2 linked regions of the Homo sapiens genome follow. The protein of the gene in region 1 purifies or fractionates together with the protein of each later gene. This does not show direct contact. Each region holds a gene or a part of one and is shown in the gene's direction. Other genes may lie near its edges. The genes, in order: HPS4 and ARHGEF35.

Region 1 (3,815 bases):
CCTTTGTCCCCTTGAGCCTTGGCTAACTCCTCAGTCACGTAGGGATGGTGGTAGACCTTCCTGTTCCAGATGCAGTGAGATAATGCAGGCAGAGACTGCACACGTACGTGCATGTGTTGTGCCGCCCCTGCTCATGGCCTCATTTCCTAGCCTGGACAGCTCTAGGTTCTGTGTCAGCTGGAAACTCCTCCGCAGTGTGTCACAGCCTGGGTTGGGAGTTCCCTAGAAACCCAGTGTTTCCCTCCATAGCCCCAGCATCGTACCTGATCTGAAGCTCCTTCCTAGAAGGCTGGGATGTCTGAAATCCTGCCTGGCTCTGGAGGGCTCTTAAACTATTGCAGCCCCTTCCCCGCTTAGAGGCTTAGAGTGGTAAACTGACCTTCCCTGGGGCCCACGCTGGAGATTCGTTGCTATAGTAACAGCCTTGCTTTAGTAGGCAGGGAAAGTGGTAGCAGTAAGAACAGCAGGTTGAAATTGCTGCAGGGCAAATGGTGTCTTGGGGCTTTCCTTGTTTTTATTCTTAAATGTGTATTATTCTAAGCTGATCTTACTATCATGCAGGGCTTGTGACCCTCCATAAATGAGCTAGTCACCTTGAAATACAGAAGAAGAGATAAGACTGCACAGCAGCTTCCTTGCACAGAGCTCCTAGCAAGAGAATGCTCTCTGGAGCTGTCAGGCTTCTCTGTGCCCTTTCCACAGACGCTGGATCACTGAGTTATGGCTCATTTGCTTCCTGTATCCCCATTCACCATAGCTAGGAGTGACTATCCATCTCCTTCTTATAGCAGTGCGGGGAGTTGTGGCTGCAGTGTTAAATGCCTCATCTCCCTGCCAATGCCTTGGTTTTCATGGTCTGTTCTGCACAGTGTCGAGCCTTGGAAGTGTCATTTTGAAGGGCCCAGTGTTTGAATGCAATAAAGTGGATATAATACCTCTCTTTTTACCTTCCCCCACAAAAAGGAAAAAATAGCCCAGGCTGCTCTTTGAGATGTATTCTGCACCAACTATATGTGAAATACTTCGCATCTCTCGTTTTAGCCAAGCCTTAGAACAGTTCTGGGAAGGAGGCATTGTAACTCCCATTTTACCAGTAAGAAAACAGCCTCATTGAGATGAAAAGACTTCCTGCAAGTGGCAGGTCCAGAATTCTTGCTTGTTTCTGGTTCCCCACCCCAGCCTCTCTGTCCCCCCACTGCCCTGCCCTTGCAGTGATAGCTGGGAAGCTGAAGAAAGGGGGTCAGTGTCCTGCCTTCTGTGGCTCGTGCTCTATGGCCATATCCCCTGGTTTGTCAAGGTCTATCCATGCTGTTACGACATCAGCCTCCATGGGCTTCTGTGGAAAGCAGGGTTTGATGCTGGCTAGGCCCCGGGAAATAGACTGCAGTTTTATGGAAGAGAAAAAGCTAATCTTTTCTTCTTTTTTTTTTTTTTTTTTGAGATGGAGTTCCGCTCTTGTTGCCCAGGCTGGAGTACAATGGTGTGATCTGAGCTCACTGCAACCTCCGCCTCCCCGGTTCAAGCGGTTCTCCTACCTCAACCTCCTGAGTAGCTGGGATTACAGGCATGTGCCACCAGGCCCGGCTAATTTTGTATTTTTAGTAGAGACGGGGTTTCTCCATGTTGGTCAGGCTGGTCTCGAACTCCTGACCTCAGGTAATCTGCCCGCCTCGGCCTCCCAAAGTGCTGGGATTACAGGCATGATTGCACCCATCCCTGAAAAGCTAATCTTTTCTAGTATGGAGTGACTAACTTTGATCAGCCCACTGGTTTGAGAGTGGGTTTGTTAATCAGACCCAAAGGATTTCTGTTTTATAATCAGGAAGAGGTGTTTGATTGCCTTTTTGTCCCAGACTAGCCTTGAAAATACTTTATCTGATTTCCCTGCAGCCCCTCTGCTACTGTCTAGAAAAACCAAATACCCCCAGTTACGGTGAGCACACCCCTTTTGCAAGGGCTCCTTAATGATGTTACATACTGCCAAGCTGCCCTTGTGTCATTTGGCTGTCTTGTCTTTGGGTGGATCAGCTTCCACAGGGAGTAGGGGTAGGGTGAGGGGCAGCAGGGGTTGGGATTGGTGAAAGGAGCCCTGGGTGGAGCAGCCAGGAGGGTTGGGATTGGGGCTGGAATTCCCTCAGAGGGAGTGGAATAGGCTCACACCAGGGGGCAGCATAGAGCCGCTGATAGTCCATTACTCAGACCCCAAGATAATCTCCTTGACCTTCAAACACAGTGATCAGATTAATTATTTATCACTACAATAGGACATGGAGCTTCTGTGTACAGTACATGAGGCTTGAAGTTAGTGTGAGAGTGTTGCCATAAAACATTTTATGAAAAAACACCTTCCCCCAACTGGGAAACCGGTATCTCTAAGTGAATGTGTGTTCCATGCATTGCTCCTGCTGCACGCTGTGTCACACACTGACATTTGTGCCACTTGCTTTCGTGTGCACTAGAAGTCAGAGGACCCGGGAATTAGCCTCAGCTCTGTGTTGCCTAGGGCTGTTGTGAGGATCACATTATGTAGCAGTATATATCGGTGGCTGGCAAACATTTTATGTAAAGGACCAGAAAGCAAATATTTTCAGCTTTGCACAGCTTTTCAGCTCTGCTGTTGCAGTACAAAAACAGCCATAGACAGTATATAAATGGTATGACTGTATTCCAGTAATTATTTATGGACATGGAATTGGAACTTCATATAATTTGCACATGTTACAATATTATTCTTTTGACTTTTTTCCCCAACCAAGTAAAAAAATATAAAAACCATTCTTAGGTCTCAGACTGTACAAAGATAGGCAACAGGCTGGATTTAGTTTATAGGCTAGAGTTTGCTGACCCCTGGTATGTATGAAAGCACTTGGTTATCAGTAAAAATTATCCACATGTCATCTGACATAGCATCTTGTGATTAACTGTGTTTTTATGGTTAAGTGATCCTATCTTGAGTGCAAGTTAGGCAGAAGATTTTGGAAGCAAAGCTCCGTGCCTGTGGGGAAACAGTTTTTGGCATGGCTCACTCTCTGTTCTTATTGTTTCTTCCTCTGGACACCAGCTCAGCATGGAAGGGATGACTGTTAGCACGTTCTTGAGGTCCAAAAACTTTCAGTGAGGCTGTGGTTTGACTTCATCAGGTGAATGCTTATGTGTGCCCGTGTGCGTGTCGGCACATGCACACACACACATCTGTTCAAATAAGAGGCTCAGTGTTAAACGCAGTGTTGGTCAGGCTCTCTCAGTGATCTGAACATGAGATATTATGATTGTCTTTCCTGAGCACATATCTTTTTACATAGCTCTGCAACCTTGGTTTAAACCAAATAGCTCATAAATTGGCAGTGCTTGGCATTGGATGTGTTCATTTATTCATTCATTTAGTGGATTCATTTATTGAGCACCTACTAGGAGTCAGACACTCTACTAAGCATTGAGGATACAAAACTGAGCGCATAGAAAATAACTTTGTATGTCACACCTATTGACTTGAAATATCATTTCTGAGACTTTCATACAGGAAAACTGATTTAACACCAATATACTCCCAAAATAACATGTAAGCTTCATGACATTTACTTCAGAAGCATTCTGTTTGCATCTCTGTACTTTTTATATGCACTTATTTTTCTTACATAGCTGTTGAAAAATAGTCCACAAATTATCTGTGATCTCTAAAGAGACACCATTTCTTTTATATGATTATTTTCATTTCCTTGACTTTATAAAAAGACTCTGCCTCAGGATAGCACTTTAGAGTTTACAAAGGACTTTTGGATGTGTCATTTCATTTAAGTCACTCAATAGTCCCGTAC
Region 2 (4,321 bases), on another chromosome or scaffold:
GGGGAGTGGTCAGATTCAACCAAAAATAACAGAAATCTCTGTCCCCCAGGTAAAGGATTCCTACTTTGTGTGTGTCTGTGTGTGCACACAGGCACACTCGAGAGACTTTTGGCATTCTTTGAAGTCACTGGAGGGGCACAGAGATAAACCCACTCAGCCTTGGCCTCCAAGACTAACAGAACAAAACGTTTCCCTGAAAGAATAAAAAAAAAATACAGGCATAAGAAAACACACAAACATGGGCTTAGAGATTTAAATACACACACACACACACACACACACACACACACACACAGGCCCTAGAAGGAACATACACCCTGAGATACGCACTCATTCTAAAATAAACTCGGGAATACAGAAGGACACGGGCATGTCCTTTCAGAGAGGCACACTTCTAGGCCCTAAGTAGGAGAAGGAAGAGGGGAGAGGAAGAGGCAGGGAGAGGGACAGGGAGGGGGGAGGAGGGAGGGAGAGAGAGAGAGAAACGAAGAAGGGGGCGGAGGAGGAGATGGAGGAGACACTCTTTATTCTATAGGAGGAGACATCACGGAAGAGAAATCAACACTGAGGCCTTGGCCGGGCGCGGTGGCTCACGCCTGTAATCCCAGCACTTTGGGAGGCCGAGGCGGGTGCATCACCTGAGGTCAGGAGTTTCCAGACCAGCCTGGCCAACATGGCGAAACCCGGCCTCTACTAAAAAATACAAAAATTAGCCGGGCATGGTGGCGCGGACCTGTAATCCCAGCTACTCGGGAGGCTGAGGCAGGAGAATCTCTTGAACCCGGAGACGGAGGTTGCAGTGAGCCGAGATCGCGCCATTGCACTCCAGCCTGGGCAACAGGGCGAGACTCCGTCTCAGAAAAAACAACAACAACAACAACAACGAACAAACCAAAAACCAATGAGGCCTGAAGATAAAGACACATGTACAACCACGGATGTCAGACTTCCAGAGGCACGGCCAAGGCAAAAGACAAACACATACAGACTGCAGCAGGCAGACAGGCCGGTTCCAGAGTCAGGCTCCGGTGAAGCTCCGAAGAAACAAACACGCAGGGAGATTTCGGAGGCGTCCGAGGACACCGTGGGGCCCGGCTGGCTCCCTCTGTCTCTGTGCGCGCCCCTTCCCCGGGTCACCCCGCCTGCGCCCGACCTGCGCCCGCGCACCGCGCCCTCGGGGCTCCCTGGGACAGCCCGCGGCCTGGCCCGTGCGCCCGGGCTCCCCTCTCCGCCGGCCCGGCACTTCCCAGCTCTGACGCGGGAGCTTCTTTCACACCAATGGGGCTCGCGCGCGGAGGGGCCCTGCCCCTCCTCCGGGAAGGTGTGTCCCTGTTTCCTCACCTGAAACTTCCTAGGAGAACCCGATCCCTCCCTCCCGTCGGGCGGCCAGGGGCGGGCCGCGGGTGGGGCGGCCGGGCCTGCGCTGGGGACGGCTCTGGGGACTGCGGCCGGCGCCGGGACCTGGAGGGGACGCTGGGGCCGAAGCAGCATGTGACACCGACCAGGTGGGTGCCCTCCTCCCGTCTCGGCCCTGGGCTCCCGGCGGCTGTGGAGCCCGGCGGAGGTGGGGCAGGGACAGGAAGGAAGAGGAAGCCAGGCCTTTCCCAGGGATCAGCCCCCGCTGGGTCCGGGGCGCAGGCTCCGGAAATGGGGGGGCTGGGCCCGCAGGCAGGGCTCGGGGTGTGTGGCTGAGGACCCTGGTGGGGAAGAGGAGAGGAACTAGAGGAAATGTTGTTGCCTACAAGTTTGCTTCCGGTCGGGTCCCGCCTAGGAAATGGGCACCCTGCCCCCAGACGTTCCCCGGGCCAATAATCAGGGCTCTTTCTTCAAAGTAGGCGCCCTGGGGAAAGCTAAGCCATATCAGAAGGAATAACTGAGATTCCCTTTCTAGGCTGTTCCTTACCTGGAGAGGTTTTATCGGCTCCTTTTCCTTAACCAGGCCGGGGCCTTTCCTTATGTATCTCCATAGGTATTTGCATACTGTGTGAGTCTATGTGTAGCTTCTCTCCGTGTTAACCAAAGCTCCGTAACCTGGAACAGTGAATCCTGCCCTGCCCCTCACCCCAGTTCCCTACATATGGGGAGCCTCCTAAAGCTTGATGTGAATCACAACGTTGCATTCTTAGCAAGGTGGAAAGAAGTTATTTAGAGTTGGGGGCTGAGGTAGGCGTTGGGGTGCTAGAATGCGGACGCAGAGCTCTAGAACCCCTGAGCATCTTTTGCAGTTGCCTTCCGGCAAGACTACCGGAGGAGAGCCAGTTGTGATACTACGTCATTTCCAGATCTCAGTCCCTTTCTTCCCTTCCTGGATCTTGGGTTCCAAAGACAGATTTGCCCTCCTGTCTACCTAGAAGTGAACTCTGGCCAGGACTCTTGTCTGGTTGAGAGAGAAGGGTGTGTCAAACAGATGAGAGAGGGTGGTTTTCCTTTCGAGCTTCCTCCCTAGCTTGCTCCCCTACTGCACTCCACTGTCTGGCCTTGCATCTTGGGCCTAATCCAGAGGTCCCAGCTCCAGCTAAAAAGCTCTTGATGTGGCCTCTGTCTCAGACGTCTTGTTTTATCCACATTTGGAGCATGAAGAAGTTCCTGGCATAGGCCTTAGCAAAATGGGTGTCATTTGTTAACCAATCTGTGGGCCTAAAAGTGAAGCCATGGCTAGTGAAGGAGTCCTGGGGAGCTGGGAAGATGGGATGAGGGCGTGTCAGTTCTGGGTGAGACTGATATGCAGGAGGAATGTATGTCATGGTCCTAGTGGGGAGGAGAGAGAAATCAGGAGGAGTGCAAAGGAATCCCTCTCATCAACAGAATATAGTGATTCTCAATAGAGAGAAGAGTGTTCATATATTAGAGGTCCTGAGAGTGTATCAGTGCCCTTAACGCGGTCTGTCTGAGGTTCCGTGGCCACGTTACACGTGGTGTCTGTGGGATAGACAGGAATACGTCATTTGTGGTGTCTGGAGAGGTCAGTCGCTATGTGGTATGGACAGGAATGGAGTCACTCGTAGGGTCTTGGGTTCAACGGGAGCAGCATTACTCAAGTGTCAGTGGTGTAGACAAACAGGTGACCAACAGCTCTAGTGTAGACAGGGGCTGGGTCACTCACAGTGTCTGTGGAGTAAGCAGGAGCCGATCACTTATAGTGCCTGCAAGGTAGACTGGAACAAAGTCACCCTCAAGGTCTATGTTAATACACAAACACGTCACTCACACTAATGTTATCTGTGTGGATGCCACCAGGACCACAGATGAGATTGTAGAGTGTAAGTCAGCATTGACACTAATAATGTTCTTATATAAACTATCTGGTCTATAAGGCAGTTGGTGTGACATTTTCAGACATTAGAGAATAGATAAATGTGTATTACAGCTTTCACTGGCATGGTGGGACTTTCCTGCAATGGATAGAACACACATTGTAGTAGTCAGTGGTCCAGAAAGCTACCCCTGTTTTGATATCTTTGTAGTATTGAGGGCAGTGATGTCAAACAGTGAATAAAGTTATATATCTATGTGGTGATCTTATTTTAACCTCAATATTATTTTAGTGATTTGTAAGTCAGAATATTTGAAATCAACCTTGCTAGAAAATCCAGGAAGCATGGTCCTCAAAAATATATATATGGCACTGAGTCTCAGTTCAAAGATTTGGCAGTTTGATTGGGGAGGGGTTGTATCCTTGAAATACAGTGTTGTTTCTAGTGACTAGAAATAGACAAGAGCTAAGGTGTTGGTGGGGGGGCTCTAGGGAAGATAGTGAGCTCTGTCACACATTATGTTAAAGGGATGACTTGAAGCTTTGCCTCTCAAGAAGTCACACGTGGGTGAGGTTATGTGGATGCAGAATGTCTGTGGTCTGAAGCAAGGCCGTATCCCCATAATCCCATGCCCTGGCTTTGCCTGTACACAGATAAACAGTGATTATTCACCCTCAGTGGAGAAGGAGATGAGGATGTTTGCACTCTAACGTAATGAGCATTGCAAAAAACTCTCTCCTGATGCCTTTACGTGAGTAAGACCATGATTTACAGATTTCCTTTCACTTTGTCACATTTTAGCTTTGTCATGCCTGATTGCAACGGGATCACTGAGATAGGATCAAGTATAGGGAACGTGGGGTATGTTCTCCCTTTGCGGTAACTGGTGGCTGAGCAGGTGACCACTGATATTTCCAAATGAAAAAAGACAGTTAGAAACGGTGTCAATGGGCTTGCAGAGGCAGGCATGCACTGTGCCACTAGATTGGAACAGAAAATGTCCAGGTAGCACATGGTATTTATAGATATACCCTAGATATGGCAGAAACACACTTTTATTTAGAGGC

Evidence for each region.
Region 2: the proteins of HPS4 (region 1) and ARHGEF35 purify together in Homo sapiens (co-immunoprecipitation; one large-scale study listed by IntAct). This does not show direct contact.

Annotation. Positions count from the first base shown.
Region 1 is NC_000022.11:26,459,750-26,463,564, reverse strand, and holds part of HPS4 (BLOC-3 complex member HPS4), read left to right. Parts: intron 1-3,815.
Region 2 is NC_000007.14:144,192,722-144,197,042, reverse strand, and holds the start of ARHGEF35 (rho guanine nucleotide exchange factor 35), read left to right. Parts: upstream 1-1,209; 5' UTR 1,210-1,505; exon of another isoform or gene 1,506-1,722; intron 1,723-4,321.